3 linked regions of the Homo sapiens genome follow. The protein of the gene in region 2 interacts with the protein of the main gene of each other region in a pairwise test. Each region holds a gene or a part of one and is shown on either strand. Other genes may lie near its edges.

Region 1 (3,500 bases), on a different chromosome or scaffold from region 2:
GGCTGAGGCAGGAGAATCATGTCCAGAGGGTGGAGGATGCAGTGAGCAGAGATCACACCATTGCACTCCAGCCTAGGCACCTAGAGCAAAACTCCATCTCAAAAAAAACAAAATAAAAACTATCCACAAAAAAACAAGTCATATTCTTTATATCTATAAATATCAGTTTTATTAACGTAATAGGTCACAGAAGCTTTCACTTGGGATTAGAGTTATTTCTTATGACACAGCAGAGCTTCTTTAACGTATTATATTTTCAGTATAGAGAAAGGTAGAAAAGGGGGGCTGAGAAGAAACTAAAAACCAATAAAAACCAAGATTGACTGTCCTTGCAGAGATCATCAGGGAAACCTATCAGTGGCTGTTAACAGCCATCTGGGAGATAAACACAAACAACTAAAAACAAAGACTTTTAGAAAGCCTGAAGCTTCTATCAGGATGATTTGAGAGTAATCTTGGAAGTGGTAGGAATACTGGAACTGGAAATGAATAAACCAAAACCTACTAATGAACTTTATCGTATACCATGATTAGAAAAAAGCTATGAGAAAAAGCAGGAAGTCCAATATACCAATCAGGGTCCGTTAAACTCAATTTTAGCTTTTCCATTTCTTTTATAAACAGATCTAACTATTCAAAGGGATCAATATCTCATGACTTATATTCTTCCTTACGACATATTCCAAAAAACAAGAAAGTTTACTTCTCTAAGACTAGAACAGAACTCACCCTTATTCTGTAATTATTATATGTATCCACTGGGCCCTTTTATAAATGTAAGGTAGAATCTAGTGATCTTATTTTTCCTATATCTTGAAACACTTTACAATTTCATCAACATTCATCAGTTATTCTCAGCTATGCTTTAAATAAAGACTAAAATGGAACAGAGGAATGATGGCATCACCTAGAGGATACAACAGTGAAATAAACTGTTAATGTTCATACAGTTTCCTTACTGCATAGCCTGAGGTATCACATCTCTTTCAAAACAGTTCAAAAAGACCAAAGACACCATCCTTGTAGTCTGCTTTTAGCTACCGTTGACCAGTTGATAATTATGAATTTTTTTCACTCATAATTGCGAAGAGAAGAAAAATTTACAGAGGAAGGCCTTTCTAATTATTAGAGATATCAGACAACAGATGCAAAGAGTACTGATAAATGTGAAATTATCTTACAAAGCAAAACCTCAGACTATGAAGTCTGAGATGGTGACATCTTAGATGAATGTTCTCAATGTATTTCTCAAACGATGTATTTCTCAAACGATGTATTTCTCAAACATTGTTCTCAAACAATGTATTTCTAAGGAGAAGAGGGAAAGATGATGTGTATTCTCATCCAGTTAATGACTCAACTGAGACTCCATCATGCAAAATCCTCCAACAAGAACCCAGATCATCCTGGTTTGCTAAAAGGGTATATGACAGTATTCTTCCATCTTTTAAGATGTTTGTGGTCAGGCACGGTGGCTTACACCTATAATCCCAAAACTTTGGGGAGCCAAAGCAGGTCGACTGCTTGAGAGCTCAGGAGTTCAAGACCACCCTGGACAACATGATGAAACCCCATCTCTATCAAAAATACAAAAGAAATTAGCCAGGTGTCGTAGCGTGCACCTGTGGTGCCACCTACATGGAAGGCTAGGGTGGAAGGATTGCTGGAGCCTGGGAAGTTGAGACTGCAGTGAGCCAAGATTGTACCACTACACTCAACCCTGGGTGACAGAACGAGACCCTGTCCAGGGGGAAAAAAAAGGTAAAATAAAAATTGAAGATAAAATTTTAAGAAATGTTTGTGTGCCAAAATGTACTTCGTAAGTGGAAATGTCAAAAGCAGATGTGTATACAAAGGTAACTCGAAAAAGAAAGATAATGAAATGCAAAAATATTCAATAGATTAGTCAATCCAACTGACTAAATGTGCTAAAATTACAGCACAGAGATGGCTATCCCTTCTTCAATAGAATGAGATGTCATTAAAAGTTCCAAAGTATTCAAGGACTGCATTCTGATGATCCAACTGTAAGAATAACCAGAATAAGCTAGAATTTATTAGAGATATATTTTAAATCTGCTATCAATATTTATAAGATTGGTATGTTCTAGGTTCATGTATAACAGTGAGCAGTTAGTTACATTTAGAGAACTGCATTCATTGTAGATACATATATCATCAAAACCTGGAAAATATGAAAAAGTTAGATTTGCTATGTTTAAACCCTCACTAAAATGTCTAATAAGGCCATGCGTGGTGGGGCTCACGCCCGTAATCCGAGTACTCTGGGAGGCTGAGGTGGGCAGATCACTTTGGCTCCAGAGTTCGAGACCAGCCTGGACAACATGGTGAAACACCATCACTATGCAAAATACAAAAGTTAGCCAGGCATGGTGGCATGTGCCTGTAATCTCAGCTACTTGGGGGCCTGGGGTAGGGTGGAAGGATCTCTTGAGCCCAGGAAGTCAAGGCTGCAGTGAGTTGTGTTTGCTTCACTATACTCCAGCATGGAGTCAATAATGGCCTTTAAAAAAGTCTAATAATGGGGGGCACAGTGGCTCATGCCTGTAATCCCAGCACTTTTGGAGGCTGAGGCAGGAGGACTGCTTGAGCCCAGGAGTTTGAGACCAACCTGGACAACACAGGAAGATTTCGTCTCTATAAAAAAAATTTTTTTTTAATTAGCCAGGTGTGGTTGGTGCATGCCTCTAGTCCCAGCTACTTGGGAGGCTGAGGAAGGAGGATCACTTGAGACTGGGAGGTCAAGGCTGCAGTGAGCCATGATCATGCCACTATACTCTAAACTGGGTGACAGAGCGAGACCCTGTCTCAAAAAAAAAAAAGGTCCAATAACGACCTTACTACCCTTTCATTCTTTCTGCTACAAAATTATTTGGTAAACGATCAGTGATGACTGTTTTCCCAAGTATACTGAGGGTTACAAAAAGAATATTCTAGGCCGGGCGCGGTGGCTCACGCCTGTAATCCCAGCACTTTGGGAGGCCGAGGTGGGTGGATCACCTGAGGTCAGGAGTTCGAGACCAGCCTCAACATGGAGAAACCCTGTCTCTACTAAAAATACAAAATTAGCCAGGCGTGGTGGTGCATGCCTGTAATCCCAGCTACTCGGGAGGCTGAGGTAGGAGAATTGCTTGAACCTGGGAGGCGGAGGCTGCGGTGAGCTGAGATCGCGCCATTGCCCTCCAGCCTAGGCAACAAGAGCGAAACTGCATCTCAAAAAAAAAAAGAATATCCTAACAACCAAAAGAAGGTGCCCATTCGAGTAACTATCTCAGAGAGGCAGTTCGAATATCTCTTGTTAATGTGGGTAAATCAAGCCTCATTTGCTGAAAATGTTATGTCTTAAAACTACCTAACCCCCTTATTCTATTTTCACCAAAGCATAATCATTCATGAATCTGGCTTTCTAAATAAACCATCTCAACTGCCTGGAGGCTTTTCTCACTGAACGATGAAATGCTGAACTCCATTTTAAACTT
Region 2 (3,500 bases):
ATCCTCATATCAACATCATTAAGCCCATGATAGGATGTACTAAGAAGGATGTGACAATGTTTCTGTGGTATTCTTACCAAAAATGCATAAACTCAATATAGGCGTGAGAAAACATCCGACAAACTCACATTGAGGTACATACCACAGAGTAACTGATCAATACTCTTCAAAAACGTCAAGATCATGAAAAGTAAGGAAAGACCAGAGAACTGTTACAGACCACAGAAGTCTAAGGAGAAGTAACTAAATGCAATTTGGATTCTGGATAGGATCTAGAGTCAAGAAAAAGGACATAGTAGGAAAACTGGTGAAATTTGAATAAGGTCTCTAATTAATAGTATTATACCAACATAAATTTCCTAGTTTTGATAATTGCACTATCGTTATGTAAGATGTTCACATTAGGGAAAGCTGGGTAAGGGAAATATAGACGCTCTCTGTTCTTTCAGCAACTTTTCTCTAAGCCTAAAAGTTCAAAAAAAGGAAAAAGGAGGAGAAAATGTAGCAGAGGAGGGGGCGTGAGTCCTTCCTGCGGCCTGGCCATGGCCTCTTCCCACCTCTCCTCATCTTTGCAGGGTGCACGAACTTCAGTCCCTGAGTGAGATGCTGAAGGTGGAGGCCCATGACTCTGAGATTCTGTGCCTGGAGTATTCTAAGCCAGACACAGGTTAGGAGAATGCCCGGAATGGCACAGGGCTCCTCCAGTCCTGCCGGTGCCACTTATATCTGTCCCGGCTCTTGGACGTGGGGTCGGTAATCTTTGGATCATTGGTGTCTTTGCTGGTTTAGAGGAAGACAGCTCTGTCCTTGCTCCATGGTTCACATGGCTTGGGGATATGGGGCTCAGTTCCCTTGGGGCTCTTTGCCAGGCCCAGATAAGGGCTGTTCAGGGCACTCATGGGCTGATGGAGTTCTTTCATCCCCAGGTCTGAAACTGCTAGCATCGGCGAGCCGGGACCGGCTGATCCATGTGCTGGATGCCGGGCGGGAGTACAGCCTACAGCAGACGCTGGACGAACACTCATCCTCCATCACTGCTGTTAAGTTTGCAGGTGCGGGCAGGGTGAATGAGACACATCCTGCCACTCTCACCCCTGCTGCCATCTGCCTCCCACCTCCATGAGAAGGGTCTGCCCATTGTGGGGGAGTGTTGGACAGCAGCTGGGAGGCCTGGAGCTGGTTGGGAAGATAGGTGGAACAGAGACTCTCAGTGCTGGGACTTGAGCCAACCAGGTTGGACTGAGGATAAGGAGACAGGAAAACCTGGGTTTCCAGGTTTAATTTAGTTGGTTTTCCCTGGCATGTAGAGTAGCTTGATGGGGGATCTCATGGAGGGAAGGTGGGAGGCAGGCTGCTCCCATGTGGTGAGAACAGTGGGAACAGCTGGGCTTCCCTCCTTCATAGCCAGTGATGGGCAAGTCCGCATGATCAGCTGTGGAGCAGACAAGAGCATCTACTTCCGCACTGCGCAGAAGGTGAGGGCGCTGGGCTTTCCTGAGAGGGGCGGGACAGGGCGGGGTCTGCCATTCCCTGCCTAAGGTTACAAGAGGTGAAGGGAGGCGCAAGTAGGGCTCTTGGGGCCTGGTGAGGCATTTGGGTGTGGGCCTGCCCACATGCTCCACCCCTGCAGTCTGGAGATGGAGTGCAGTTCACACGGACACACCACGTGGTGCGGAAGACGACCCTCTATGACATGGATGTGGAGCCCAGCTGGAAGTACACGGCTATCGGCTGCCAGGACCGAAATATTCGGTGGGCGTCCCCTCCTCAGACTCTGCCCACATTCCTTCATCTCCCTACGGGGTCAGCTCTGTGCAGCTAAGTTCCCACATCTGTCGTTCTGTACAGGACTTTGTACCCCCTTGAGCCTACAGTACTTTGCTTCACCCAAGAGGTGGTAGCCTGTTTGCTGCTGGGGGTAGCTCCCAGAGAGTGTAGACTGGGAGTGAAAGCTGGCATTTCCATCCCCCAGGCGTGTTCCACCTTCACCGCCTCCTCATGAGAAAGAGACTATGTTTCTTACAGGATATTTAACATCAGCAGTGGAAAGCAGAAGAAGCTGTTTAAAGGGTCACAGGGTGAGGACGGCACACTCATTAAGGTAAGGACCCAGAGGGGGTACTGGACAGGGGCTCGGGGACAGAGTGGTGCTGGGTGGGAGGGACTGGTACTTCCCATGTCCTCCAGCTGCACACCCTGCTACTCCTCAGGTGCAGACAGACCCCTCAGGGATCTACATTGCCACCAGCTGTTCTGACAAGAATCTCTCCATTTTTGACTTCTCCTCAGGCGAGTGCGTGGCCACCATGTTTGGCCACTCAGGTGAGTGTAGCCTGAATCCCCGAGTAGAAGCTGATACCTGCGTAAACCTGAGTGAGTTCCACCCCTGGAACTTCACTCTTCTATTAGTTTCTTGGGACCCGCAGAGCTACCTATCCCTACCCTGCAGCCAACCCCCGTGTCCACTGTTGGGATGGAGAGGACTTGGTTGGGAATTTAAGGTGGCTTATAGACCGTATTCTTTGTTCTTCACAGAGATTGTCACTGGCATGAAATTTAGTAATGATTGTAAACATCTCATCTCTGTGTCTGGGGACAGGTGAGCAGAAGCCAGCTTCCCTGAGAGGCAGATTCTTACTCTGCCACAGCACCCTGCCCTCCCCTCTCTCCATTTCAGTGATGTCTCTGGGAAGTGGGGTTAACAGGGATAGCTTTTGGCTGTGCTTGACCTGAAGTGGAGGGTGGCTCTGGTCTCCTTGCCATCCATGGATAAGGGGAACGAATGGCGCTAGCCATTCTACCTGCCCCTCCTTCAGCCAACTGTGTGGCTTTACCCCAGCTGCATATTTGTGTGGCGCCTGAGCTCTGAGATGACCATCAGCATGAGGCAGCGTCTGGCCGAGTTGCGCCAGCGTCAGCGGGGCGGCAAGCAGCAAGGACCATCCTCTCCCCAAAGGGCTTCTGGACCCAACCGGTGAGAACAGAATGTGGGCAAGTGATGGGTGGGTGTGCAGATGGCTTGCTGGGACCTCACTGCACTTCCTCCATGCTTTGGGCCTGCCATTCAGCAACTCTGTCTCCCAAGACCTTACCTCTCACACAAGGATCCATGATGTCAGCCTCTTCCCCCTGTTGAGTCTCCTCTCCCCCTATTGAGTCTCATCTTCCCCTCATTGAGTCTCCTCTTCCTTCTTCCCCCACTGAGCCTCCTCTCCCCCTATTGAGTCTCCTCTCCCCATGCCCTTCCTTGTCTCGGACTCAGGCACCAGGCCCCATCAATGCTGTCTCCTGGACCGGCTCTCTCATCAGACAGTGACAAGGAGGGAGAAGATGAGGGGACTGAAGAAGAACTTCCAGCACTGCCCGTCCTTGCCAAGAGTACCAAGAAGGCACTGGGTCTGTGGCAGTTGGGTGTGGGGGCAGACAGGCCCTAGTTGGTATAATGGCTAGATATGGTTTTTCTGAGACTGTGGGGTGAGAGCAGTGTGAGCTGAGGAAAC
Region 3 (3,500 bases), on a different chromosome or scaffold from region 2:
GCAAAATAAGGAAAGAGCAGCCACGTGCGTGTTCACAAGATGAGATGGCCAGTGCTTTTATAAAGGGAGCTTTGCCTACGCCCTTCTCTAAAATGCCAGAAGAAGAGCAAAAACAATGCTCCACTAACCAGGCTCAGAAAGGAACAGCAGAGGGTCGAGGTGACTTATGTTCCCATAAGAAAACAGTTTAAAAATATTTTCCAATTAATCCTAAGTATTTTATTAAAGAACAGCAACATTCTTAAATGATCTATTTACTATATGTGACAGAAAGACATGAAACAGAAAATATCAGGAAACAGAAAAACCCACTGAAAATGTAGTTATAAAAATTATATAGAAGTACTTTAAAAGAAGAAACTGTAACCATTCAACCATATGTATCTCAAAATATTTATTGTCTTTTATTAATTAAATAACTATAATACTACGTTTTCAGATGGCTCTGAAATGTGTTTTGTTTTGTTTTGAGACAGAGTTTCACTCTGTCACCCATACTGGAGTGCAGTGGCTCGATCTCGGCTCACTGCAACCTCTGCCTCCCAGGTTCAAGCAATTCTCCTGCCTCAGCCTCCCAAGTGGCTGGAATTACAGGACTCCACCATGCCCAGCTAATTTTTGTATTTTTAGTAGAGACGGGGTTTCGCCATGTTGGCCAGGCTGGTCTCGAACTCCTGATCTCAAGCGATCCGCCCACCTCAGCCTCCCAATGTGCTGGGATTACAGGCATGAGCCACCACGCCCAGCCCTGAAATATTTCAAAGCTTCTTTTTTATTCTGTTATTTGTACAGTCTTCCAAATCTCACTCCATTATAATAAACATAATTTAAATAAGTTTAATATAAATATAAAAATGCTAGCAGTATATTTTAAATTCAGTTTAATAAAGTAAAAGGTAAGCAGAAAAATTAAAATGTCTAAGTTTCTCTCTAATTTACTTGAATAATCATACAATATCTACACTGAAAAGGCCCTCCAAGATTGGCTCCAACAGCCAATCTTGTTCCCAACAGCACTAGAAGGAATTAAAGGCACAAGGAGGGTACCTGACTTGTCCCCAAAGTTGCTAAGGCCGCAGGGGTGGGCCTGAGGCTCGCCTGGCATGACACCCAGTGCAGCACACTTCCCAGGACATCCTTCTCCTCTGAGCACTCCTTCCCCAAGCTTCAGTGTTGCCACCTGCCTTTTCATTAGGTTTATCATTCAGAAAAGACTGAGACTGCTGCTGTTCAACCCCAAAGGAGAGAATACTGTAGAGATTTCACTGTAGGTGTGCTTCACCCACATTTCACAGCCAGTTCTACTGTACCTGAGATCTGAATGAAGGTGCTGAATACAATCCATTCAACTGAAGTGGTAAGTTCCCATTTAGTGGCCACCGCACAAAGTACAAGAAATAATTTTCATGTTTCATGGAAGAAGGTGAATGTGAACCATTTGCAACCCCCGTTAAAAACAAAATAACAAACGCAACAGAGACTATCTGTTGCTACCTTTAGTTTAGTACAGACTAAGTTAGCTTTGCAATACACAAATAGCAGGCATTATCTGACACATAAATACTGGCAGGGAAATTTTTTAGGCAGAACTAAGAGATACTTTTAAGACAGAATTCATGGTGGCTCACGCCTATAATCCCAGCAGCACTTTGGGAGGCCAAGGCAGGCGGATCACCTGAGGTCAGGAGTTTGACACCAGCCTGACCAACATGGACAAACCCTATCTCTACTAAAAATACAAAAAAATTAGCCGGGCATGGTGGTGGACACCTGTAATCCCAGCTACTCGGGAGGCTGAGACAGGAGAATCGCTTGACCCCTAGTAGACAGAGGTTCCGTCGCACTGAGATCGTGCCATTGCACTCCAACCTGGGCAACAAGAGCGAAATTCCATCTCGAAAAAATAAGAATTCATCATGAAACTTTATTTTTAAAACTAGACATTATCATAAGCTAATATGTAATTTAATAACCCTACAGGGAAGAATTTAGAATCAAATTCACACTAGAAGCTTGGCTATCTTTATAAAGTCACTCTGGACATGCTGTAATCATATCAAGAGCATACTCAATGTTACTGCCCCTATCTTAATAAAGTCCCTCCTGTGTAGTTGATACAAATACTCTTAGAGTCTCAACAGCATCATCAAATGGCATTAAATGCTCAATTATGCAGCATACTAATGTTGTACTAGGCACAGTAAAAAGAAAATAACATAAACCCACTACCAGAGGGGTCAAATAACTCTAAAACTTACTTAAGGACAAAATTATAAGCATCCATGTGTACAGAAAATAAGAGTGACTACAAGCCAAGAATTCGGAATCTTTCCATTACCAGCAGCTATAAACTGGAAATGACAGCAATGCAGGAAGAGAATCATTAGACAGTGATGACACAGGGGAGGCAAAAGCACACAGGCTGGACACAAAAACACTGAAAAATTCCGCAAATTTTTTAATTGCTGAATCTGAACTAGGTGAAAAACAGGAGGCTGCCAAGAAAGAAAAAATAACTGTTAACAGCAAAAGTAGATAAACAGGCAAAAGAGACAGCAATATGGTAGTTGGAACCTAATCCTAACTCTGCTTACCAGGTGACCTTGGGCAAGTCACCTCTATCTTTGAGTCTGAGGACTTCAGTATAAAACAAAAATCTGAATTAGATGAGTTCTGAGACCCCTTTTGGTTCCAACATGCTGAGTCCATAATGCAAACTAATTCTTATATAGTGTCATTGGGAATTATAACCTTTTTGATTTTCTAAAAGTATGTGAACACAAGTATAAGATGTATGGTATAGCATCCTTGGAAACAGGATGCCCATCTCAACCATACCCCATTCTGGGAAAGCACCCATTTTGTTTATATTATGTTAAAGGCAGCTTCTTACCACAGCGTGGTTCTTGAGGAGTTCCTTTCATAAACAGCATGCAGGGGGCAGCATGAGTCAATTTCTTCAAGCGAAGGTTGAGATCTTCTTTAAGATGTTCATTAGCGCTGGGTAGGAAGGAGCCACTAGATGCATGTCGCTGAACTTTTTTGGTCAACTCTGGGGCATGTGCACCATCTAATCGGTCGATTTTCTGAGAATTCTAAAGTTTAAAAAGTTATTTAGAATACATGCAGCATTCCATAATAATGACATTGTTATAGCAGATTTTTAAAGGGGACAACAGTATTACCGGAGATGTAAAAAAAGAAACCCTCATTGCCAATTGCCTGCACTGCATCTCAATTTTAGAAATACATAATTTTTTTCTTTTCTCAGAAACACACTGAGAAAACACTGCAACATCTCAAAGTCAAATCAGGTCAGTCTAACATAATACAAAAAAGACTGCCCCCACATTGGCTGGAATGAATCTATTACTAAGTATAAATGAGGTATTTGGGGAACTACGATGACACCCATGGGTGCCTGGAAGCACAGGTGTGCACCTGCTTCCTAAAAGTCATTCATCAAACCAGAACCAGCCAGAGATTCCATTATGTCCAGG

The links. The genes of interacting proteins can lie anywhere in the genome.
Region 1: the proteins of MAPKBP1 (region 2) and FXR1 interact in a two-hybrid assay, tested with the Homo sapiens proteins (one large-scale study listed by BioGRID and IntAct).
Region 3: the proteins of MAPKBP1 (region 2) and GLRX3 interact in binary tests that used the Homo sapiens proteins (3 or more experiments, as listed by UniProt).

Annotation. Positions count from the first base shown.
Region 1 is NC_000003.12:180,943,670-180,947,169, reverse strand, and holds part of FXR1 (RNA-binding protein FXR1), read right to left. Parts: intron 1-3,500. UniProt on the Homo sapiens protein: mRNA-binding protein that acts as a regulator of mRNAs translation and/or stability, and which is required for various processes, such as neurogenesis, muscle development and spermatogenesis.
Region 2 is NC_000015.10:41,815,984-41,819,483, forward strand, and holds part of MAPKBP1 (mitogen-activated protein kinase-binding protein 1), read left to right. Parts: intron 1-575; coding exon 576-667; intron 668-926; coding exon 927-1,052; intron 1,053-1,404; coding exon 1,405-1,475; intron 1,476-1,630; coding exon 1,631-1,752; intron 1,753-2,025; coding exon 2,026-2,101; intron 2,102-2,210; coding exon 2,211-2,322; intron 2,323-2,535; coding exon 2,536-2,599; intron 2,600-2,839; coding exon 2,840-2,974; intron 2,975-3,262; coding exon 3,263-3,396; intron 3,397-3,500. UniProt on the Homo sapiens protein: Negative regulator of NOD2 function. It down-regulates NOD2-induced processes such as activation of NF-kappa-B signaling, IL8 secretion and antibacterial response. Involved in JNK signaling pathway.
Region 3 is NC_000010.11:130,160,391-130,163,890, reverse strand, and holds part of GLRX3 (glutaredoxin-3), read right to left. Parts: intron 3,096-3,500; coding exon 2,894-3,095; intron 1-2,893. UniProt on the Homo sapiens protein: Together with BOLA2, acts as a cytosolic iron-sulfur (Fe-S) cluster assembly factor that facilitates [2Fe-2S] cluster insertion into a subset of cytosolic proteins.